Linked DNA regions of Homo sapiens. The protein of the gene in region 1 interacts with the protein of each later gene in a pairwise test. Each region holds a gene or a part of one and is shown in the gene's direction. Other genes may lie near its edges. The genes, in order: CCHCR1, BICD2, VPS9D1, CCDC13, NINL, DEUP1 and MAD1L1.

Region 1 (3,500 bases):
AAGGTCCTGGGGGCTGGAGGGGTCACAGGCCCTGAGCCAGCAGGCTGAGGTGATCGTTCGGCAGCTGCAAGAGCTGCGGCGGCTGGAGGAGGAGGTCCGGCTCCTGCGGGAGACCTCGCTGCAGCAGAAGATGAGGCTAGAGGCCCAGGCCATGGAGCTAGAGGCTCTGGCACGGGCGGAGAAGGCCGGCCGAGCTGAGGCTGAGGGCCTGCGTGCTGCTTTGGCTGGGGCTGAGGTTGTCCGGAAGAACTTGGAAGAGGGGAGCCAGCGGGAGCTGGAAGAGGTTCAGAGGCTGCACCAAGAGCAGGTGAATGCAGGGGTAGAAAGGATTCAAATTCATAACGGAGAGCTGGGCAGTAGCTTCCAAGCAAAGAACAGGTATTGCAGAAAAGACCCTCCATGAGTAGTGAGTAGTAGAGTGATGAGACCTTTGGTGAAAATAAACACACATGGCCTAGAAAGATGGAGAATTTGGGTACTTTTATCTTAATTCAGGTTGCACTTTTCCCCCAAGACTCAGGTGGCCTCCCACCACTTGAAGCCCTGCTTCCCTTTCTAGTAGGAAATAGTTTGCCTCCCTACTTTACTCCAGGTACCAATTCATCAGGGGTATTGTGGAGGGCAGTGAGGAAGGTGGGTATAAGGGGGCTATGGTGGACTGGGAGAGAGAGATTATTCAGTCCTCAAACTCAGTACTTACTCTTTGCCATCTCTAAGACTCAGTGACCAAATTAGCCTGAGTCCTGCCTTCGTGGATGGAACTGACAGCCTCGTGGGGGATATACACATCCACATTTAATTTAATCATAATTAATTGCAATCAGGAGGAATGCCTTGAAGGAGAAGGACTAGAAAGCACTAACTTAGTCTGGGGTTCAGGGAAGGCCACTGTAACCAGTTGACATGTCAAGGAAAGAAACCATAGCCCTGGGCGCAGTGGCTCACGCCTGTAATCCCAGCATTTTGGGAGGCCGAAGCAGGCAGATCACAAGGTCAGGAGTTCAAGACCAGCCTGGCCAACATGGCGAAACCCTGTCTCTACTAAAAATACAAAAATTCACCAGGCGTGGTGGTGCGCACCTGTAATCCCAGCTACTTGGGAGGCCGAGGCAGGAGAATCACTTGAACCTGGGCAGTGGAGGTTGCAGTGAGCCGAGACTGTGCCATTGCACTCCAGCCTGGGCGACAGAGCAAGACTCTGTCTCAAAAAATAAAATAAAAAAGGAACTGGGAGAAAACAAGGGAGAATTCCTTTATAACCTTGTAGTGGGCAAGGCCTTTCTACCTGTGAGTCAAAATCCAAAATCTAGAAGCCATAAAGGAAAAAATTGATCCATTGACTTTATAACATGAACATTAGGAATAGCCAAAAAGAAAAAAAAAAGCTATATTTATAGCTCAGATCACAAGAAAAGGGTAATATCCCTAATATAAAATGTGTGCCTAGAAATTGGTAAGGGAAAGACCAGCAATCCAATCAGAAAATGGACAAAGGAGATTTATGAAAGAAACTTAGAAACAAGAAGCTAGGCCAGGCACAGTGGCTCATGCCTGTAATCCCAGCACTTTGGGAGGCCGAGGTGGGCGGATCACTTGAGGCCAGGAGTTAAAGACCAACCTGGCCAACATGAAGAACTCTACAAAAAAATACAAAAATTAGCCGGGTATAGTCGTGGGCGCCTGTAATCCCCCAGCTTCTTGGGAGGCTGAGGCAGGAGAATTGCTTGAACCTGGGAGACAGAGGTTACAGTGAGCTGACATCACACTCCAGCCTGGGCAGCAGAGCGAGACTAAAAAAACAACAAGCTACCGTTTGTGCTGAATAGGAGTTGGCCAGTGAAGAGGCGTGTGAAGTCCAGTGGTAGCTGGAAGACACTTGGTGGGACAACAGGTGAAGGCGGGGACAGGAGGCCAGAAGGCTGGGGCACAGAGATGAGGGGCACTGAGTGTGCTGCAGAGCCCAGGGCCCAGGGCACAAGGCTTTGGCCACTTCAGAACTTGCTACTTTCCCATAAGAGCAATGAGCAGGCTGGGCACAGTGGCTCATACCTGTAATCCTAGCACTTTGGGAGGCCAAGGTGGAAGGATCATTTGAGCCCAGGAGTTTGAGACCAGCCTGGGCAACAAAGCGAGACCCCCATCTCTATTTTATGGAAGAAATTAGGGCTGGGCATGGTTGCTCACATGTGTAATCCTAGCACTTTGGGAAGCTGAGGCGGGTGGATCACTTGAGGTCAGGAGTTCGAGACCAGCCTGGCCAACATGGTAAAACCTCATCTCTACTAAAAATACAAAAATTAGCTGGGCGTGGTGGCTCATGCCTGTAATCTCAGCTACTCAGGAGGGTGAGGCAGGAGAATCGCTTGAACCTGGGAGGCAGCGTTTGCAGTGAGCTGAGATCGTGCCATTGCACTCCAGTCTAGGCAACAAAGTGAAACTCCATCTCCAAAAAAACAAACAAAAAAAAATTGTTTTTTCAAGTAATAAGCAACCGTTGAAAGGTTGTTTTTTTTTTTTTTTTGAGATGGAGTCTCGCTCTGTCGCCCAGGCTGGAGTGCAGTGGCGCGATCTTGGCTCACTGCCAGCTCCGCCTCCCGGGTTCAAGTCATTCTTCCGAGTAGCTGGGACTACAGGCGCCCGCCACCACGCCCAGCTAATTTTTTGTATTTTAATAGAGACGGGGTTTCACCATGTTAGCCAGGATGATCTCGATCTCCTGACCTTGTGATCCACCCACCTCGGCCTCCCAAAGTGCTGGAATTACAGGAATGAGCCACTGCGCCCGGCCTGTTGAAAGGTTTTAAGCAGGGAAATAACATGATTAGATTTGTATTTTATGTCTAAAAAATTTTGTCATTTATGTCCCCCAAATTAATTTTATTGTTGTATGGAGACAGGGCTAGAGGAGGCAGACCAGGAAGCAGGGTGGGCACTTTGCCCTCCTTTCCAGTCCATCCCATGACTCTTGGTGGCTCTGACACCCCTGCAACCCTTTGAGGTGCCATGAGCAAAAGACACAAAATTCCTCCTTTCCTGGAGCTTTCCTTCCAGTGTGGTCCGACAGATAGTAACACATACACATAAGCAAGATATGGTCAGTGCTAAGTGCTCAGGAGGACGTGAACAGCTGATGGGGCAGAGTAGGGTGGGGAGGGACGGTATTAGAGGGCCCAGTGAAGCCACCCTGAGGAGGGGCTATCGCCTGGGGTCTGTGGAGCAAGGAGGGGCCGCTGTCTGGTTCTCAGCAGACTCCCCGTGGCCGGAGCGGGGAGCAGTGGGAGAGCCTCCAGGGTGAGCTCAGGAGGTAGGCAGAGGCCGGGTCCCCTGGCCTGCAGGTGTGGAGAGACACCTGGGTTTTGTTGTGAATGCTGTGAGAAGCCACTGAGGGTTTGTAAAGACTAGTTAGGAGATGGTCGCTGTTGCCCAGGCAAAAGATGAGGGTTGGTGGCAGTGGAGACGGAGACAGAGAGGTGAAGATATGTTTTGGGGGAGATCGGACA
Region 2 (3,500 bases), on another chromosome or scaffold:
CGCCACGCCTGGCTAATTTTTTGTATTTTTAGTAGAGACGGGGTTTCACTGTGTTAGCCAGGATGGTCTCGATCTCCTGACCTCGTGATCTGCCCGCCTCGGCCTCCCGAAGTGCTGGGATTACAAGCATGAGCCACCGCACCCAGCCTATCTTCTGAAAGTTTTATAGTTTTAGTTCTTATATTTAGGTATTTGATTCATTTTGAGTTAATTTTTGTGTATAATGTGAGGTAGGGGTTCAGCTTCATTATTTTGCATATATGTATCTACTTGCCCCAGCATCATTTGTTGAAAAACTTTTTTTTTTTTCCTCTGTCGTCCAGGTTGGAATACAGTGGCGTGATCTCGGTTCACTGCAACCTCTGCCTCCTGGGTTCAAACCATTCTCCTGCCTCAGCCTCCCAAGAAGCTGGGATTACAGGCACCCGCCACCACGCCCAGCTAATTTTTTTTTATTTTTAGTAGAGACGAGGTTTCACTATGTTGGCCAGGCTGGTCTCGAACTCCTGACCTCGTGATCTGCCCGCCTCGACCTTCCAAAGTGCTGGGATTACAAGCATGAGCCACCGTGCCTGGCCGAAAAACTATTCTTTGACATCAAATTATTTTTGTACCCTTGCCAAAAATCAATTGACCATATATATGAGGTTTTATTTCTGGACTCTATTCTATCCCGTTGGTCTCTGTATCTATCTTTACACTAGTACCACATTGTTTTGATCACTGTAGCTTTGTATTAAGTTTTGAAATTGTGAGTTCTCTCACGTTGTTATTCCCTTTCAATATTGTTTTAGCTCTTCTAGGCCCTTTGCAATTCCATATGAATTTGAAAATCACCTTTTCCATTTCTGCTAAAAAGGCTTTGGAATTTTGGTAGGGATTGCATTGAATTTCAAGTTAATTATCTTTTAAAGAGATTTAAATAAGAAAAATAAGTACTTTATATTTGCCTATTTAATTATCATTTCTTCCATGTAGATAAAGATTTCCATATGGTATTATTTTTCTTCTGCCTGAAGGATTTTATTTAGCATATCTTTAAATACCAATGCATATCTGCTGTTGATAAATTCTTTCAGCTTTTGTATCTCTAAAGTATTTCACCTCTATTTGTGAACAGTTTTCAGTGAGTATAGCATTCTAGTTAAGTTTTTTTGTTTTGTTGTTTAAAAGATGTTGTTCCACTATCTCCTGGCTTGTTAGAGAAATCAGCTGTCATTTATCTTTGCTCCTCTTGAGTCATGTATCCTTTTTCTTCTGGCTGATTTAAATATTTTTATTATATAATTGGTTTTAAACAATTTTATATTATGCCTTGGTGTAGTTTGCTTCATATTTCTTGTGCTTGGTGTTGACAAGCTGCTGATATCTGTGGGTTTATAATTTTCATCAAATTTGGAAAATTTTCAGCTATGATTTATTTCTTCAATTACTTTTTCTATTTTCCCCTTTTTCTCCTTTGGGTACTCCAATTACTCCTTACATAAGGCTTCTTGAAATTGTGTCATACTTCATACTTCACCAATGCTCTGTTTGAGTCTTGCTTTTGTCTTTTAGCCTTTTTTTCTCTGTGTTTCATTTTGGATAGTTTGCTGTGGTTTTTCAAGTTGACTGATCTTTTCTTCTGCATTGTTTTATCTGCTGTGAATCCCATCCACTGTACTTTTCGTCTCTAGAAGTTCTATCTGGATCTTTTTCTGTCTTCCTCATTTGTGCGCCTTTGCCTGCTCAGTGGTAAGTGACGGGATGCCAGCCAGTGGACCTCACCTGTTGGGAGATGGATGTTTTTGTATTCCTTCATGTGTTCTTGAGCTTTGTTCTGGGATGTAGTTAAGTGACTTGGAATCAGATTGATCCTTTCAGGTTTTGTCTTTATGCTTTGCTCTGTGGTATCAGAGCAGATTTAATCCAGACTAATTTTTTCAGGCCCTGGGAGTGCTCCCCAGCTGCCTGTGCATCAGGAGGGCTCTCCTCTGCTGTTGGGAGCAGGTACTGTTTTTGGCTGGTATAAATGGTGGGGATTGCTTTCTCTGCCCCCTCAGTGGTCCTTCAGTGACTTCTTCAGCTCTGTGCTCCCTGGTCCTCAGTGGAGATTCTGGCCCTGTGTGCAGGTCTGCCTAGCTTGGCTGCCCTGCTGCCATCTTCCGCCATCTTCCAGTCCCTCCTTGACAGGGTCTGCCACGCCTTGCCTCAGTCTCCCATTTTTCCATGGCTGGGAAGTTCTTTTGGTGGAGGGGGCTCCTGGAACTCCCCTCCTCCTGTCTCTCACTATCTAGTGCCCATGATGTGAAAACCACTGCTTATTATTTATTTATATTCTATCATTGCCTGGTTTTTTTCTTTTTCTTTTTTTTTTTTAAGTTTTCACACAGAAGGTAGTTCTAATTTCTGCAACAATCTCATCTTGGCTGTACGCGGAAGTCTGTATCTCAGTGTGTTTGAAAAGCTGCCCAGGAGTGTTTTGGGCCCCAGGCTGGGAGCTTAAGCAGAGGAAAAGATCCAGGGCTCAGGCCAGGAGGCTAGGACTTGAATGTCGTGTCATGGCATTTAGCTGTCATACCTGGAGGAAGCTTCTGAGGTGATGTCTGCATCCCCAGCTCCAGGCTCGTGGGTGTGTTCTGAGCAGCCATGTGTGCTGGACCCTTCATTTGGGTCCCTCCTGCTTGTCAGGAGGCCCAGATGGTCTGGCGCTGCCCATGCCGCCTGCAGCCGGCGGGCCCTTCACCCAATGAGGGACTTGGGGCCTGGCTGCCACTTGGGTGGGGAGCCTGCAGCTGGGGCCAATTCCATGTCCGGTTTCCCTTCTTGTGGCCCGGGGTGGCTGGCCAGGGTGGATGAGGTGCTGTGTAGACATTATGATTTGGACCTTCCTTGGGACTAGGATAAGGAAGAACAGAGCAGAAATCACAGAGCTGACCCGATTGCCTTGAAGAAAAGCGGACATCTTCCACGTAGTGGGTGTTGTGTTGATGGGTGGGGGCAGGTGAGCAAGACCCAGCCTCCTCAGGAGTGTGGGTGCCATAGACATCTGTGCATCCGCAGCAGGAGTGTCCATGTCAATCCCGAGTCCCCCCGTGCAGTCCCATTGCCAGCACCAGTCTTCCTGCTGGGCTGTGTTGTCCTGTTAGCCTTGTTTAGGGGTGTCCCCCGCAACACCACGAGACACACACACACAACACATACATCACAGCACATGTCACCACACCTGCCATAGCACATGTGTGCTCTTCCAGGCAGGATCCTGTGATCCTCACAGTGCTGTAAGATCAATCAGTCTGTCTTCCCCTTGAGTCCCCTGTTGGTCCCATGAGAGTCTATACTCAGACTAGACCCTGGTTTCTTTTACCAGTCTCCTGTTGGGACGAAATGAGTTACTCTTTGTTTTGATTTCTTGAAATTAGAAACTGTCCTGCTCAGTAACATCCTTATTCATGGTTTTTTACATTTTCCCTATTTTCTTGGACTGAATTCTTAGATTTAATATTAAATAGTAAATGAGT
Region 3 (3,500 bases), on another chromosome or scaffold:
CGGGGGAGCCCCTGGACGTGGGATCACAGAGGTCGGGGCAGCCACTGGACGTAGGATCACACAGGTCAGGGGGAGCTAACAGTTGCCCCAGCTCCCTAGGGAGCCGGTGAGCTCGGCTGAGCTCTGGCGCTCCAAGATTGAGGAGTTGGGTGGAGGAGTGGCAGAGGATCCCCTGGGGAGAGCAAAGTCCCAGAAGACAGAGGAACTCCAGTGGCCCACCGTGTCTGGCAAGGTGGGGACGGGTAAGGGCAGTTTCCGGGGGGAGTCGGGGGCTAAATCGGGGCGGGATGAGAAAATGGGAGTCTATGAGAAGTTTTCTGTGAAGGGCAGCAGGGAGGTGGGTCAGGCGCTGGGGCGGTGGGTCCAGGGGCGAGTCACAGAGAGGCAGCTCCCACGGCGCGCAGAAGGGCTGTGTGAGCAGGTCCATGGTCGCGCAGAGGTGCTCCATGCCAAGCTACGGGAAGGCAGGACTTTGGGGACACAGCCGGTGGGAGATGGGTGAGGCGATCCCCTCAGCACGTCCTTGTCTCTGTAAAACGGCCACTTCCCAGAGGCCTGCAGTTGCAAGTGAAGCTGAGTGAGCACTAAAGGCCTGTTTAGGGTCGAGGCTGTGACGGGCCTCGATGAGGGGCCCACAGCCTTAGCAGACTCAGGAGGCAAAACCAGGGCAGATGATTAGAAATGCGTGGGTGGGGGGACTTGCCTGGGGTCCATGGTGGGGGCAGGGGCCTTGCCTGGGGTCCATGAGGAATAGTCGGCTTGCCCGGGGTCAGTGGGGGGTGGAAGGGGCAGTGGGCTTACCCGGGGTGAGGGGATGGGGGGGCAGTGGGCTTGCCTAGGGTCAGTCAGTTGGGGGACGGGAGGGGCAGTGGGCTTACCCGGGGTGAGGGGATGGGGGGGCAGTGGGCTTGCCCAGGGTCAGTGAGGGGATGGGGGGGCAGTGGGCTTGCCCGGGGTCAGTGGGGGTGCTGAGGGGGGCAGTGGGCTTGCCTGCCTTTTCCGTTGCCTCATTTTATCTCAGCAGTAAGTAACAGTGGTAGAGCCGACTGTGACCAGCCTTCTTGTCCCTCCCCCAGAAGCTGGGGAAACTGTGCCCCCCGACACCTCCAAGATGCTGAAGCTAGCACAGCAGTGTCTGGAGAGGGCCCAGTCGACGGCCGCCAAGCTTGGTGGGTCTCCTGCAGTAGGCGGCTCTCCTGGGGCATCCCCCAAGCCCGCATCTCCTCTGTGGGATGTGGCCCACCGCTTGACCCCTGGTTACCCATGGCTTGCAGGGAAAACACGCCTGAAGCCAACCATGCCTGCAGCTGCTCCCATTCCCCAGCCTGCCGGCCGACACCGCCGTGTATACTCCGATGAAGGAGGAAAGCTCTCTCCTTTTCTGCCACCCGAGATCTTCCAGAAGCTTCAGGGGGCAGAGTCACAAAGCTGTAAGAAGTAAGATGGACAAGATGGGAGGTGGGATGAGCCTGGGATTGGGTTTTTGAGGCTGAGAAAGATGAGCTGATGACAGCGATTTTTTTTTTGTTTTTTGAGACAGAGTCTCACTCTGTCACCCAGGCTGGAGTGCAGCGGCTCAATCTTGGCTCACGGCAACCTCCACCTCCCGGGTTCACACCATTCTTCTGCCTCAGCCTCCCAAGTAGCTGAGACTACAGGCGCCCACCACCACACCCAGCTAATTTTTTGTATTTTTAGTAGAGACGGGGTTTTGCCATGTTAGCCAGGATGGTTTCGATCTCCTGACCTCGTGATGCGCCTGCCTCGGCCTCCCACAGTGCTGGGATTACAGCGTGAGTCACCGCGCCCGGCCCCCACAGTGCTGGGATTACAGGCATGAGCCACTGCGCCTGGCCTGACAGCGAATGTTTTTAAAATGAGTCCCAGAATGGGAATATCCCCTGGCCGGACACAAGCAAATGCAGGCGGCCTGGTGGCTCACGCCTGTAATCCCAGCACTGTAGGAGGCCGAGGCGAGCAGATCACCTGAGGTCAGGAGTTCCTGACCAGCCTGGCCAACATGGTAAAACCCCGTCTTTACTAAAAATACAAAAATTAGCTGGCCGTGGTGGTGTGCACCTGTAATCCCAGCTACTCAGGAGGCTGAGTCCAGGAGAATCGCTTGATCCTGGAAGGTGGAGGTTGCAGTGAGCGAAGATTGTGCCACTGCACTCCAGCCTGGGCAACAAGAGTGAAACTCCGTCTCAAAAAAAATTAGGCATAGTGGTGTGCCCCTGTAGTCCCAACTACTAGGGAGGCTGAGGTGGGAGGCTCACTTGAGCCTGACAGGTTGAGGGTGCAGTGAGCCGTGATTGTGCCAGTGCACTCCAGCTTGGGCAACAAAATGAGACTCTGTCTAAAAAAAAAAAAAATGACCGGGCGCGGTGGCTCACGCCTGTAATCCCAGCACTTTGGGAGGCCGAGGTGGGTGGATCATGAGGTCAGGAGATCGAGACCATCCTGGCCAACAAGGTGAAACCCCATCTCTACTAAAAATACAAAAAATTAGCTGGGCGTGGTGGCGGGCACCTATAGTCCCAGCTACTCAGGAGGCTGAGGCAGGAGAATCCCTTGAACCCAGGAGGCAGAGGTTGCAGTGAGTTGAGATTGCGCCACTGCATTCCAGCCTGGGCGACAGAGCAAGACTCCATCTCAAAAAAAAAAAAAAAAAAATTTAGCTGGGAACAAGGATGAGTTATATATCTATATATATGTAGAAATCCATACATACAAAACTGAGCAGACAAGTTTATAACAGCAGAGCAGATATAGCTGAAGAGCAAATTCATGTATTGGAAAAAAGGTCAAAAGATAGCTAGAATGAATTACAGAAACAAAAAATAAAGACAGAAAACAAGAGATGGAAAGCCTAACGTGTTCGTTGGAGTTCCAGAAAGAAAATGGGAGGGAGGCCAAGGCAGGCAGATCACAAGGTCAGGAGTTCAAGACCAGCCTGGCTAACATGGTGAAACCCCATCTCTACTAAAAATACAAAACTTAGCTGGGCATGGTGGCGCGTGCCTGTAACCCCAGCTACTTGGGAGGCTGAGGCAGGAGAATCGCTTGAACCCAGGAGGTGGAGGTTGCAGTGAGCCAAGATCGTGCCACTGCACTCCAGCCTAGCAACAGAGCGAGACTCCGGCTCAAAAAAAAAGAAGAAAGAAAATGGGAGAGAGGCATTATTAGAAGTTAGAATGGCAGACAGTTGTCTAGAACTGATGAAAGATACAAAGACACAAATGCAAAAAGCCCAGTGACTCCCAAGTGGGAGAGACGAGAAGGGTCCACTCCTCCTGCCCCTGCTCTGGCGGGGCCTGGCTTCCCAGTCCCCTTGTTTCTGCAATGTGGCTTCAGGGCAGGGTGGCCAGGCGTCAGGCTCTGACTTTCCTCCTTGTCCTCCATTGTCCCTGACAGTGGGAAGGTACGAGGGAACAAAGCTTTCAAGGTGGAGTGGCTGTTGGGAACTGTATAAAGGAGACAGGACACTTCTTCCTTTCATG
Region 4 (3,500 bases), on another chromosome or scaffold:
CAAAGTCCCAGAATTGAGTGTCTTTGGTCTAGCCTGGGTTATGTGACCATCCTTGAGCCCATCACTGTAGCCAAGAGTACAGGGTGTTTTGATTGGTCAAGCTTCAGACACCTGCCCCAAGGTTTGAGGGGATGAGTTAGCCTCCCCAAACTTGCAATGAGAGTAGGGAGTAGGGGCCACTTTAAAGAAGGTAACAGAAGCAGCATGAAGAGGTGCAGGCAGGCCATACAACAGGCCCACGTAGTGGCCCTGGCAGTGAGCTACCTAACAGTGAGGACTTGCCTTTTCATCTGGAGACTTTTGCCTGTGAGCACCAACGCTGGGTTAGGCCCTGTGTTAGGAATGCTGTAACCATGACCACATTGCACCTCCCAGCGCTGTAGACCATCAGCTGTGAGGAGGGAAACAGTGAGACCACAGAAGTGGACAGGGCCTGCTGGGCTTTGTATGCCAGCCAGGACTTTTGGCCTGTATCTTGAAGGCTGTGGAGAACCACCAAACGGTTTTTGTTTTTTTTTAGATAGAGTCTCGCTCTGTTGCCCAGGCTGGAGTGCAATGGTGTGATCTTGGCTTACTGCAACCTCCGCCTCCGGGGTTCAAGTGATTCTCCTGCCTCAGCCTCCCAAGTAGCTGGGATTACAGGCACCTGCCACCATGCCCGGCTAATTTTTATATATTTAGTAGAGACAGGGTTTCACTGTGTTGGTCAGGCTGGTCTCAAATTCCTAACGTCAGGTGATCCACCTGCCTCGGCCTCACAAAGTGCTGGGATTACAGGTGTGAGCCATTCGCCGAGCCCACGACAGGGTTTTAATTTGTGGAGGGAGGTGGTCAGCTGTGCATTTTGGAAAGGTCACATGGTTGGAGCAAGAGGAGGAATGGGTTGGAAGAGGAATGGAAGGCAGAATAGTAATCCTGGAGACATGACCAAAGATCTTTGCCAAGATAGTGGACTGTCATGGAAGGGCCAGACACCTGGGACAGTGAGGACAGACTTTCTAGGGCTCAAGGACTGATTGGACTTGGAAGAGAGATGAGGAGGAAGAGTTATAAAGGACTTCTAGGGAGTATAGTGGGTGGGTAAGGGAGACAGGGTGGGTTCAAGAAGAGAAAGGGAGTTGAGATTTGGAAATGCTGGGTTTGAAATGCACCTAGCTTGAACTTACATGTTAGTGCAGAACAGATTATGTTGAACAGTTGGGCTGACCATAAGCTGCAATAGCGGGTGGAAGGAAACAGCTTCCTGCATGCATTCCCTCTGGCAGGCACCCATAAGAGCCTGGAGTGTGTAGGCAGGAGAGCAACAGGTGAGTAATGGCTGCCTCCCTGCAAAGGGCTTGTGTCCTATAGATTCATGTTTTACTTGTTTTGCATTTCTATAATTCACTTCATCAAGGATATGAAAATACTTTTCCAGCAACAATTCACCCTCAGGATCAAGCAGGTGATGTCACCCACTGCCCAAGCTCCTCCCCAATGTCTCCATCTTGTCTTTATGGGTTTGCCTAATCTAACCTCTGCCCCTTCACTCACTGTGCTCCAGCCACACACCTTCTACCCCAGGGCCTTTGCTCTTCCCTTCATCTCCTTCAGTCTCTGCTCAGATGCCACCTTTTCAGAAAGGCCTTACCTGACCATATCCTTCTCGCTATTCCTGTTTCCTACTTTCAAATTAGCATTTGTCACTATTTGACATTATCTGTCTCCTCCATTAGGATTATCAGCTCCTTGAGGACAAGGACTGTTTTGCTTTTTGCTGTCCCCCAGCATCTATAACAATACTAAGCCCATAGTAGGCCCTCAGGAAACCATAGTAGGAAACCTCAGGAAACCCATAGTAGGCCCTCAGGAAACCCTCGAGAATGAAGGGATGATTGAATGAGAGACTCCGAAGATGTGTGCTGCATGTGAGTTTCCAGTTGGTAGCTGACAAAGCAAGGTGCTGTCAGGGGTTGTGCCAAATAATCATGGAGGAAGTGGGAGAAAAGACCCTCCTTTCTCATTCTAGCTCCTGGTGGTGCAAGGTGCTGCAGTTGGAACCTAGCCCAGCACTCTTTTTCTAAAGTATGGCTTTTCTCTTTTCCCCTGCTTGGGGAGGGGCTTAGGGGTAGGACTGGCTGTGCTCTCTGGAGGACACACGCAGTTGGCTGGCGGCTTTCCTCTCATGTGCTAGGAAGTCTGTGTCTCAGGCTGAGGTTAGGAGTGCTGTCATGGGTTAGTGCTGTCATGTGCTAGGGGAAGGGTGGGAGGCTGCTGGCCACCTGATATCCCTGAGAGGCCTGGGCTGGGAGTCAGGGCCCTGGCTCTAGTGACTTGCTCTGTGGCATTCAACAAGCACCCCCACCCCCAGCCCCGGGCCTTGCCATTGAGTAGGAGCCAGGGAGCAGATGTGGCCAAGGTCCCACACAGCCCTGCTGCCCATGCCCTCACTTTCTAATTACAGAAACTTGCCAGTGAACGGGATGTCCTCCAGAGAGAGCTTGAAGAGCTAAAAAAGAAGTTCGAGGGCATGAGGTCTCGGAACAAGCTGCTGTCAAGTGAGATGAAGACCCTCAAGAGTCAGATGGGAACCCTGGTGGAGAAGGGCCGGCATGATGACGAGCTCATCGACGCCCTCATGGTATGGCCCCACCACTCAGGCAGGGCGAGAGCCAGGGGTGGTTCCTCAAAGGATGGGCCCCAGCCATGGCCAGAGTGAGCCCTCACTCACCCCTCAATGCCACCTGTGTAACCCCAAAGCCCGTTGCCTCCAGATGGCCCCCAGTACCAAAGCCCTGCCCCAGGGACAGGAGCAGCTCAGGGAGGCTGCCTGAGGGCAGGTAGGGGGCTGTGATGGAGCAGCACCAGGCACAAGGCACTGGGCCTATGGACCCCAAAAGAGACAGAAATGTATTGGGGGAAGGAGGTGGGATTATACCCTGGGTTATTTTTCAGCAAGGAATGAAAGGGACAAGAGGAGCCAGTACCAGTTCTTATCTCTGCAGTGGCACAGAACCCTTCCTCTTCTGGGCATGTTATAATGCTTAGTCCCTAAGATAACTTCTAGGATCATATATTTTAATCCCACTTCACAGATGGGGAAACTAAGACTCAAATTCATTAGATAACTCATCTAAGACCATACAACTGAGTTCAAAGCAGGTTTATCTGACTATAAAAACTTCCTGGATTAAACGTATCTCAAAATAATAAGAGCTATTTATGACAAACCCACAGCCAATATCATACTGAATGGGCAAAAACTGGAAGCATTCCCTTTGAAAACCAGCACAGGACAAGGATGCCCTCTCTCACCACTCCTATTCAACATAGTGTTGGAAGTTCTGGCCAGGGCGATCAGGCAAGAGAAAGAAATAAAGGGTATTCAAATAGGAAATGAGGAAGTCAAATTGTTCCTGTTTGCAGATGACATGATTGTATATTTAGAAAACCCCATCATCTCAGCCCAAAATCTCCTTAAGCTGATAAGCAACTTCAGGAGTCTCAGGATACAAAATCAA
Region 5 (3,500 bases), on another chromosome or scaffold:
GCAGTATGAGGACTGTTAGCTCAAAGTCCCATTTTTATTTTATTTATTTATGTTTTAGAGACAGGGTTTCACTGTGTTGCCTGGCTTGACTTGAACTCCTGGGTTCAAGCATTCTCCCACCTCAGCCTCCCAAGTAGCTGGGACTACAGGCATGTGCATGACTCCATTTAATTTAATTTAATTTAATTTTGCTTGAGCTTTACTGCTTGATCAAATTCCTTTTTTTTTTTTTTTTTTTGGAGATGGAGTCTCGCTCTGTCACCCAGGCTAGAGTGGTAGTGGGCGATCTCCGCTCACTGCAAGCTCCACCTCCCAGGTTCACGCCATTCTCCTGCCTCAGCCTCCTGAGTAGCTGGGACTACATGCGCCCGCCACCATGCCCGGCTAATTTTTTCTATTTTTAGTAGAGACGGGGTTTCACCGTGTTAGCCAGGATGGTCTCGGTCTCCTGACCTCATGATCCACCTGCCTCAGCCTCCCAAAGTGCTGGGATTACAGGTATGAACCACTGCGCCCAGCTAATCAAATTCCATTTTTAAGCAAGAGTATTAAGGACTTAATGAATTGTGCTTTGCTTTTTGTGGCTTTGTGTGCGTGTGTGCGCCCATGGAAATAACATTTCAGGGCCGGGCGAGGTGGCTTATACCTGTAATCGCAGCACTTTGGGAGATTGAGGCGGGCAGATCACTTGAGGTCAGGAATTTGAGACCAGCCTGACCAACATGGTGAATCCCCGTCTCTACCAAAAATAGAAAAATTAGCCAGGTGTGGTGGGGCACACCTGTAATCCCAGCTACGCCAGAGGCTGACATGGAAGAATCGCTTGATCCTGGGAGGCGGAGGTTGCAGTGAGCCAAGATTGCGCTACTGCACTCCATGGGCGCCAGAGTGAGATTCCGTCTAAAAAAAAAAAAAATCACGCCTGTAATCCCAGCACTTTGGGAGGCCGAGGCAGGCAGATCACCTGAGGTTGAGAGTTCAAGACCAGCCTGACCAACGTGGAAAAACCCCATCTCTACTAAAAATACAAAATTAGCCAGGTGTGGTGGTACATGCCTGTAATCCCAGCTACTCCATAGGCTGAGGCAGGAGAATCTCTTGAACCTGCGAGGTGGAGATTGCAGTGAGCCGAGATCGCGCCATTGCATTCCAGCCTGGGCAACGAGAGTGAAACTCCATCTCAAAAAAAAAAAAAAGAAAAGAAAAGAAAATATTTCAGAAAAATGAGTCTGTTCCTGGGACTAGGACAGTAGTAAGCCCCGAGCTTCTGCTGGCCCCACACAAAGAGGGGTGGTGGGCTCCCCCGCCAGGATGGACCTCACAGGAGCTCTATTCACAAAGAGGACCTCCAGGTTCCCCTTAGAGTCATGGGTGGTGTCAGACCCTAAACATGAGAACCAGCATCAGTCAATATAGTGCAATATTCACTAACTTGGAGTTTTCGTTTCAAGGGCATAGGAATGTAGTAAACAGCTATTAATTATTTAAAAATCAACAGGGAGAGTCTGCTCGGTGCAGATTTTGAGTAGGTTGTCCCAACCCCAGGGAGAGCTCCTTGTATCTGGAAGGCCTCTGCCTGTCCTGTACTCAAGTGACCTGAGGAGGGATGTGCTGGACTGTCCGGCCACGTGGCCTTGGGACTTCCAGCCATGCTCGGGAGGAGGACAAAACCAGGCAGGCAGAAGTGGGTAGCGTGCCAGGTCTCCAACACAGGAGAGGCGGCAGGGCCTTGAACAGACTTGGGGACGCGTGTCTCCATGTGGACCAGTGAGTAAAACTGAGTACCCACGGTCCTGGGATGACCAGCAGGGACTCCAGAGGGCGGGCTGCAGCCCGGCCAGTTAGCTCCCTGCTTCAGGCAACGTTGTCACTGCTCTCCAAGGCCCCAAATGAAGGTAAGTGACAGGCTGAGATTTTCCCCAACTCTGGGTAGGGACAGAAACGTGGATGCCCAATTTCGGAACCCCACAATCTACATTAATGGCCTGTACTGATTTCTGGTACGGTTCCTCAGGAAACTGTGTCAAGCAGGATGTTTGCAGGGGCAGGTCTGAAGTGGACACAGTCCACAGCCTGCATAGTTCAAGACCAGCCAGGCCTTGCTCTGTGGCAAAAGTTTTAAACTGTACTTGATAGTGTACACTGTTGCACAGCTTTAAAGCGAAGCAATTCTTGATACATTTTAAATTCTTACTGAATTTTTATTATTTCCAACTGTGCACATAAAGTAAGACTCTTATCATTGTAGACTTTCACCACTTAAAATTCTCAGGCTGGCACGGTGGCACATGCATGTAATCCCAGAACTTTGGGAGGCTGAGGTGAGAGGATCTCTTGAGTTCAGGAGTTCGAGACCAACCTGGGCAATGTACTGAAACCCCATCTCTACCAAAAAAAAATGAAAAATTAGCTAGGCACAGTGGCATGTGCCTGTGGTTCAAGCTACTTGAGAAGCTGAGGTAGGAGGATCACTTGAGCACGGGAAGTGGAGGCTACAGTGAGTGGGGATGCACCACCGCACTCCAGCCTGGGTAACAGAGCAAGATCTTGTCTCAAAAAAGTAAAATAAAATAAAAATGAATAAACTTCTCATAATTCAAACTCACATAAAGGTGACTACCCTGCTGCAGTCACCATGCTAACCAAGCGATTGCAGTTACTGTCACCAGTTATGAGACATCTGTGCCCCCCATGAGATGTGCCAAGGACACACCTGACCCAGGTGTTCCTGCCACCCTTGAATCTAATTGTGCAGACACCAGACAGACTCTGGGACATTCTACATAACGCCCTGCCTGTGTCTACTCCAAAGACTTCAAAGTTCAGAAACAGAGACTGAGAAAATGGTCTGGTTTAAAGGGACAGGAAAACCGTGTACAGTGCTTGTCTCTGAATTGGAAACTGGACTGGGGTGAAAAAGATAGCTGTAAAGGACATTGTTGGCACCATGGACAGAATTTGATCTGAATGGTGGATTGTATAAATGTCAAATTTCCCTAGTTTGTTGTACTGTGACTGTCTCCTTGAGCTTAGTGAATACATTTTGAACTATTTAGGGATACAGGGGCACAAAGTCTGATACCCGATTTCAAATGGAGAAGGAGAGGAGCAGGGGTAGATAGATGATATGGAGGGAGGGAGGAAGTGAGGGAGAGAAAATGACAAAATGGTTGTGGTAAAGGGGAAAAGTGGAAACAGGTGGTGAAGCCAGCCGAGTGAGGGAGTATTGGAGAATTTTTTGTACTATTCTTACAAGTTTTTTTTTTTGTTGTTTTGTGTTTTTTTTGAGACTGAGTACTTGCTCTGTCGCCCAGGCTGGATGGCGCGATCTCGGCTCACTGCAACCTTTGCCTCCTGGGTTCCAACAATTCTCCTGCCTCAGCCTCCTGAGTAACTGGGATTACAGGCCCACGCCACCATGCCCAGCTAATTTTTTACTTTTTAGTAGAGACGGGGTTTCACCATGTTGGCCGAGCTGGTCTCGAATTCCTGACCTCATG
Region 6 (3,500 bases), on another chromosome or scaffold:
AGGGATGATGCCATATCAAGAGCTCAGCTTTGGTTTCTGTTGCAAGCAGGTCAGACATTCAACAGCAATAGCAGCTGGATTACCCTTGGTGAAAGGGGAAATCATGGTATTGGGATGATGCATAATTCCCACTGAGGTAGCCAAAGACAAAGGCTGGATCAAATCATCCTGTCCACTTGCTGGAGTCTCAACCAGGACTCAACAGCATGACAAGAATTGTCTTGCAAATAGTATATAGGTTTCTGCTACAGATAGCATAGCCTTGTTCCAGAATCTTAAGGGTCTGCAACACAGCTTTCCCGATGAAACTTGCCAGAGGCTCCACAAGGCATTTTTCTTTACCAGAGATTCTTCTAGTATGGGATCTACCAAGTTATTTGACCAAAGTAGCAGGACTACTTGTACCCTATCCTGAACCTCCTACACAGCTCTTTCTTTCCAGAGTTCTGGGCTTTCTCACAAAATAATTTTTTCACCAGGCATGGTGGCTCACGCCTGTAATCCCAGCACTTTGGGAGGCCGAGGAGGGCAGATCACGAGGTCAGGAGATCGAGACCATCCTGGCTAACATGGTGAAACCCCGTCTCTACTAAAAATACAAAAAATTAGCCGGGAGTGGTGGCGGGCGCCTGTAGTCCCAGCTACTCGGGAGGCTGAGGCAGGAGAATGGCGTGAACCCGGGAGGTGGAGCTTGCAGTGAGCCGAGATCACGCCACTGCACTCCAGTGTGGGCGACAGAGTGAGACTCCGTCTCAAAAAAAAAAAAAAAAAATTTTTTCTGTGTCACCCAATAAATGAATCAGATTATTCAATTATTTGATCCAAGGGTGGAACATTTTCAAGGTGCATTAATTTTTGCTTTACCTAGGATGTTCTGACATGCCACATAGCAGTAGACACCTAAAAACAATGTGTCAAGCCCCAATCTTTTATGGGGTTTATCTTTCACCTTCTGGAGTACATACATCTTTCCATCCCTTTAACATACTTGCCACTTCTTGCTCATCAAGTCTCATTAACATGATGTTAGTGTTAATATATGATGTTCCATGTGATAGTCTTTGGAATGTCCAGATGGGCTAGGCCCCTTCAGAATTTATTGTGACAGCTTCATTAACATAACTTTGGGGCAAAACCATGGATATATATTGTTGGCCACCACATGTGAATGCTAACTGCTTCCTATCCTCCTTTTTATTAGATATTAAAAAGAATGCATTTGCCAATATTAAAAATAATGCATTTGCCAGATCAATAGTAGCATACCATCTACCCCAGGCTGTGATAGTCTTCTCTAGTAGAGATACTATCCCTGACACAGCAGCTACAGTTGGGCCTACTGGTTGGAAAAGTGTGCAGTACTCCATCATTTGCATGATCCCTAGTTTTGGCAGGGGCCAGATTGGTGAACAAAATCCACCTAACAAGGTTCACATGTATACAGATTGTCGACTCCCCAAACACTACATAAAGTCCCATTCTTCCTACCAAAATGAAAATCAAAGAAGAATATAGCAACCACAGAACTGGAAAATTAAAGTACAGATTTCCCCAACAAAAAAAAATTACTTAATTTTTGTATGTGGCTTTTCAAAACGAAGAATTGTAAAATTATCTGATGTTGTCCTTTATTCTTTAGCCACAGATTTTTATTTTTTTTTAAATAAGCACTAAACAGGTCACAAACAATTAAATAGCATTTTCATGTCACCATGAAGGGTGGAATTGGGGCACTTGTCCCTGATACTTTCTTCTCTGTGATAAGACAAACAAGATACATGCCAGCATCAAGCCTTCCCTACTAGGGAGCCACCTCCACCCCAAGACACATCATGCAGCCAGCCCTCTCACCTGGCTAACTCCAAGCATTGATTCTCCCTGTCAAAGCCAATCCTTATTTTCTTCTCTATAAACTGTCTAGTGCAATTCCACTATAATCTTTACTTTAGCTTTTTGGAGTTGCCTATTTTCAAATGAAAATCATTGGCTTTGCAAATGATTGCAGCATGTTTTAGGCAGGTTCCATGGTGAGTGCATTGTCCCTGCATTTGCAGTTGGACAATATAACACTCATTTGTAGAGCTTTTTAATGTAATGGTGCTGTGATGTCTTACTTAGTTCCTTGAGGATTTCATTAGTGGTAACTGAATTACACTAGTAGTGGGAATTCAGCCCAGGATGTATTCTTTCATTAAGAGCTGCGGTGTTTGACAGTATGTCAGGGATGAAGCATGCCTGGAAATGGGAAGATTTTTTAAAGCTCTGTATTCCTCACTCACTTTTCTTTCTTTCTCTCTTTAGTCTCCCCCAGATATGTCCTTCCCAGCATCTTTGGCTGCACAGCATTTCCTTCTGGAAGAAGAGAAACGAGCAAAAGAACTTGAAAAACTTCTAAATACACATATTGATGAACTGCAAAGACACACAGAATTTACTCTTAATAAATACTCCAAGCTAAAACAAAATAGACACATATGAGCTTTTAAACTTTTTTATTTGCTTCCCCCCCCCACCCCCGCCAAGAAAAAAAGCTCTGGCAAAATATTTACAAAGCTGATTAATGAAACCAAGAAATTCTGTTCTGTTTCCTTGAGTAAATAATTTCCGTAAGGCAGCTAGAAAATAGTAAGTATTTTGTTCTATAAAGCTGTTCACATTTCTGCATTAACATGCTAAATTGTCCTGCTGTAGAGTTACTATAAAATAAACATGACTATTCCAAAAGAGATTTTTTTCCAGTCTAAGGAATATTTTGGAATCAAATATGCAGTTTTTTTTCCCCACTTGAATCATGTATACTGAAAACCCATTTCCTCAGCAACTACACAAAATAAGAGAAAGGGAAGTGCTATATTCCAGATACAAATGACTCAAAGGCAGCTCAGTTGTACTGGTTTTGAAAACTCAAGGATTTTATAAATAAAAATATTTAAGTATTTCCAGTTATGTAAACACTCTAAAATTCTATAATTTTTTGGAAAAAAAAAGCTATAGCTTTATTGTTTTTACATTCACCTTTATAATGTCTGTCTGTTTCAACACAATGAAGGTATATGGAATGTGCAATTTACAAACCTAAAATATATGTGCCAAAAATTAACGCTTTTTTGTTAGTACTAATTACTTCATGGACACAAACAAGATAAAGGAAATATAAAGCATTACTGTTGCTACATTTTCCTTTGTAATCACTTCTGTTTTTAATACAATAAAGGAATGTAAAATTCAATGGACTTGAAGCATAAATGCTAAATCTGTATAGAACAGTAATAGCATGGCTGTGAACAATAAAACAGAGTTACAAATACACAGCAATAATACAATATACTTTAAGAGTTTCACATATGTGTGTGTGTGTATATATATGTCTCTCTCTCTCTCTATATATATATATATATGTATATATGAAGAGAGATTATGAAAGAAGGTAAGTCCTACTACAGCTTTTACAGTTCTCTATTTCCCTTTAAAGAAACAATCTCATCATACTGAAAGATAAA
Region 7 (3,500 bases), on another chromosome or scaffold:
AGACCCTGGGCCCGGGCAGGACCTCTTCCAGTCTTCTGTAGTTGAGGTGGGTCGGTATTAGCAGAGCCTAGAGACAGCTATTCGTCTCCCAGGTCTCACTATGGGCACTCCTCATTTTGGGGTCGTAGCTGGAGGCTAGTTGGGGCCCTGAGCCATCCTGGCTTAAAGGCCTGCCTTGTTAGCGCCCTGAGTGGGCCTGGCGCTCAGCATTGCGTTCACACAAGTGCACTCACAGACCCTGGTGACAGGATCGGAAAGCCAGTTCATTCATCTAATTGAGGACAGAACCCAAACTGCCTGGGGGAGTGAGCACCAGGACTGTCGGGAAGGCTGTGTTGGAAACACAGTGCTGAGAGTGCCTGGGCAGCCCAGAGACAAAGCCACAGCAGTGAGCAGAAGGACTGGGTGTTTTGTGGTCTCAGACTGTGGAGGGCCATTTACAGATTTTGGGGTGATTTTTACAGTTTTCTTCTATAAAATAGTTGTATTTTGTTTCATTACAAGTTCTTGGGGTTTCTCACTGTAGACACAACTGCAGAGGATTCAGGCCTCCTGAAGGACTTCAGGCTCCAAAGAGTGATGAGCCCAGTCCCAGTTGGGGCTGCGATAATGGGGCCCCCAAGTTGTAGGGAGTGGTGGGGAGTGGAGTGCTGGCTAGTAGTGTCTCCAGCCTTGCCTGGGCCCTGTGGCTGCGCAGGCTCCTCTAGGCTCCTCTGCCTGGACCCTCTTTCCCAGTCCCTGCTGCGGTCCCCAGAGCCGTTCTGTAGTTCTGTCCGCATTAGAGGAGGCTCTGGCTTCCTGCGCTCTCAGAGCCCAGATGAGGCCCTGCTGCATTTGGTTAAACTGTGTGTGCGTGTGCATTTGTTTTGTTGCATAATTGAATTAATGTGTGTTTATTAGAATGCTAGCTTGTGGCCAGATGTGGTGGCTCAGGCCTGTAATCCCAGCACTTTGGGAGGCTGAGGTGGGCGGATCATGAGGTCAGGAGATCAAGATCATCCTGGCTAACACGGTGAAACCCTGTCTCTACTAAAAATACAAAAAATTAGCTGGGCGTGGCACCTGTAGTCCCAGCTACTCGGGAGGCTGGAGCAGGAGAATGGTGTGAACCCGGGAGTCAGAGCTTGCAGTGAGCTGAGATTGCGCCACCGCACTCCAGCCTGGGTGACAGAGTGAGACCCTGTCTCAAAAAAAAAAAAAGAATGCTAGTTGCTAGCTTGCTCACTGCCCTTTCTTGATGAGGACTGTTTTTTATTCTGAGATTAGGTCATATATATATATATGTGTGTGTGTATATATATAATATTTATGTAAATGTTCTTTTGTGAAATTATGAAGGTAATAGATGGTAGTTGTTTTTTATCACTGACAAAATGAGAAGTGGCCAACTCTGAGCTGGTTGCAGTGGCTCATGCCTATAACCCCAGCACTTTGGGAGGCTGAGGTGGCTGGATCACTTGAGGTCAGGAATTTGAGACCAGCCTGACCAACATGGTAAGACCTCATCTCTACTAAAAATACAAAAATTAGGCGGGTGTGGGCACCTGTAATCCCACCTACTCGGGAGGCTGAGGCAGGAGAATCGCTTGAACCTGGGAGGCGGAGGTTGCAGTGAGCCATCGCGCCACTGCACTCCAGCCCGGGTGACAGAGTTGGCAACTCTGGTCTGAAATGCTGTGATTTTAGTGTTGCGAATGTCTGGGACCTCTTGGCCTGTCTGTCAAAGCTGTGGGATTCTAGAGTCTGTCTTGGGGCTCGGAGGCCCCCAGTGCTCACTGGTAAAGGCCTCTCGGTGAGGGGATCAGTGATGGAGTGCGGTAGTCAGAGCAAGGTGGTGAGCGGAGTGATGGCGGCAAGACCAGCCTTGGTCCCTGGCCCCTGTCACATCCCATTCCTGGACTTCGTCGTGGTTCTCTCTCTCCTGCTGAGCCCCCGGCGTGGCAGGGAGGGCCTGGAGAACATGGCAGGCCGGGGGAATGTGTGCTGTCTGGTTTCTCACACATCGTGTTGATTTAACGTAAGGGTAAACTTTCAGGGTTCCTTTCTTTCCGTTGTAGTCAGCTCCAGGCAGAGGTGGCACACGGATCAGGTGTGTCTGGGACTCCTGGTCCCTGCCGGTCGTGCCCCCTGCAGGCGGGGTGCCCACCCTTCTCGAGAGGCTCAGGCTTGACTGCAGACACAGAAGTGAGACCAGGAAGGCTGCTGAGTTTGAAGGGCAGTCTTAGGAACGCCCAAACAGCAGCAGCTGAGAATCGAGACACAGTAACATAGGAGTAAAGGAAGTGTGGGCTTGGGCCACCAGAGAACACAGGTGGGAGGACAGAGAAACTTCCCTCCCCTGTCCCAGGCTTTCCTGGCCTTGGCACGCTTGGCATTTGGGCTGGGTAATTCTTTTTTCTCAGGACTTTCTTGTGCATTGTGGGCTGTTTAACAACTTCCCTGGCCTCTACCCCCTGGACGCCAGCCAGCAGCAGACACATGTGACCACCCCCCTGTGACAATCAGGTGTCTCCAGACAGGGCCAGATGTTCCCAGGGGCAAAACTGGACCCCACTGGGAACCACCACTCTACTCTGGTGCTTCTCAACCTTTCATGTGCATGTGAACGCCCTGAGAATGTGTCTAAAAAGAAGTTTCTTTTTTTCTTTTGGAGATAGGGTCTTACTCTGTCATCCAGGCTGGAGTGCAGTGGTACAATGTTGGCTCACTGCAGCCTCCGTCTCCTGGGTTCAAGTGATTCTCCCTCCTCAGCCTCCCGAGTAGCTGAGATTACAGGTGCGTTACCACCACACTCGGCTAATTTTCATAGTTTTGAGTAGAGACAGGGTTTCACCATGTTGGCCAGGCTGGTCTCAAACTCCTGACCTCAAGTTATGTACCCACCTTGGCCCCCCGAACTGCTGGGATTACAGACGTGAGCCACCACGCCTGGCCTAGATTCTTTTGTTTTTTTTTTTTTGAGACGAACTCTTGCCCTGTCATCCAGGCTGGAATGCAGTGGTGTGATCTTGGCTCACTGCAACCTTCGCCTCCTGGGTTCAAGCGATTCTCCTGCCTCAGCCTGAGTAGCTGGGGTTACAGGTGCGTACCACCACGACCAGCTAATTTTTGTATTTTTAGTAGAGACGGGGTTTCCCCATGTTGGCCAGGCTGGTCTTGAACTCCTGGCCTCAAGTGATCCACCCGCCTTGGCCTCTCAAAGTACTGGGATTACAGGTGTGAGCCACCACACCCAACCTAAAGAGAAGATTCTGACTGAGTAGGTCTGGGGTGTAGTCTGCGACTCTGCATTTGTTAAGTGCCGGGAGATGCTGCACTGCAAGGCTCTGGGCCACGTGAAGAGTCAGTGACTCTGCCTTTTCCTCCAGCTGAGCAGGTCGTACCCAAAGGCCGGCTCTGGAACTATTTGGCAAGTCTTCTGGGGCTCTTTGAGGCTCAGCTAACCTGTAATCACTAGCCCTGTGTGGTAGGCAGACTTCTGAGAGGGCCCCCAGGAGCTC

The links.
Region 2: the proteins of CCHCR1 (region 1) and BICD2 interact in binary tests that used the Homo sapiens proteins (3 or more experiments, as listed by UniProt).
Region 3: the proteins of CCHCR1 (region 1) and VPS9D1 interact in binary tests that used the Homo sapiens proteins (3 or more experiments, as listed by UniProt).
Region 4: the proteins of CCHCR1 (region 1) and CCDC13 interact in binary tests that used the Homo sapiens proteins (3 or more experiments, as listed by UniProt).
Region 5: the proteins of CCHCR1 (region 1) and NINL interact in binary tests that used the Homo sapiens proteins (3 or more experiments, as listed by UniProt).
Region 6: the proteins of CCHCR1 (region 1) and DEUP1 interact in binary tests that used the Homo sapiens proteins (3 or more experiments, as listed by UniProt).
Region 7: the proteins of CCHCR1 (region 1) and MAD1L1 interact in binary tests that used the Homo sapiens proteins (3 or more experiments, as listed by UniProt).

Annotation. Positions count from the first base shown.
Region 1 is NC_000006.12:31,151,303-31,154,802, reverse strand, and holds part of CCHCR1 (coiled-coil alpha-helical rod protein 1), read left to right. Parts: intron 1-3; coding exon 4-307; intron 308-3,500. UniProt on the Homo sapiens protein: May be a regulator of keratinocyte proliferation or differentiation.
Region 2 is NC_000009.12:92,730,334-92,733,833, reverse strand, and holds part of BICD2 (protein bicaudal D homolog 2), read left to right. Parts: intron 1-3,500. UniProt on the Homo sapiens protein: Acts as an adapter protein linking the dynein motor complex to various cargos and converts dynein from a non-processive to a highly processive motor in the presence of dynactin.
Region 3 is NC_000016.10:89,714,399-89,717,898, reverse strand, and holds part of VPS9D1 (VPS9 domain-containing protein 1), read left to right. Parts: exon of another isoform or gene 1-555; intron 556-994; exon of another isoform or gene 995-1,076; coding exon 1,077-1,169; exon of another isoform or gene 1,170-1,274; coding exon 1,275-1,437; intron 1,438-3,500.
Region 4 is NC_000003.12:42,738,754-42,742,253, reverse strand, and holds part of CCDC13 (coiled-coil domain-containing protein 13), read left to right. Parts: intron 1-1,166; exon of another isoform or gene 1,167-1,279; intron 1,280-2,443; coding exon 2,444-2,620; intron 2,621-3,500. UniProt on the Homo sapiens protein: Required for primary cilia formation and promotes the localization of the ciliopathy protein BBS4 to both centriolar satellites and cilia.
Region 5 is NC_000020.11:25,575,532-25,579,031, reverse strand, and holds part of NINL (ninein-like protein), read left to right. Parts: intron 1-3,500. UniProt on the Homo sapiens protein: Involved in the microtubule organization in interphase cells. Overexpression induces the fragmentation of the Golgi, and causes lysosomes to disperse toward the cell periphery; it also interferes with mitotic spindle assembly.
Region 6 is NC_000011.10:93,435,242-93,438,741, forward strand, and holds the end of DEUP1 (deuterosome assembly protein 1), read left to right. Parts: intron 1-2,301; coding exon 2,302-2,478; 3' UTR 2,479-3,229; downstream 3,230-3,500. UniProt on the Homo sapiens protein: Key structural component of the deuterosome, a structure that promotes de novo centriole amplification in multiciliated cells.
Region 7 is NC_000007.14:2,226,446-2,229,945, reverse strand, and holds part of MAD1L1 (mitotic spindle assembly checkpoint protein MAD1), read left to right. Parts: intron 1-3,500. UniProt on the Homo sapiens protein: Component of the spindle-assembly checkpoint that prevents the onset of anaphase until all chromosomes are properly aligned at the metaphase plate.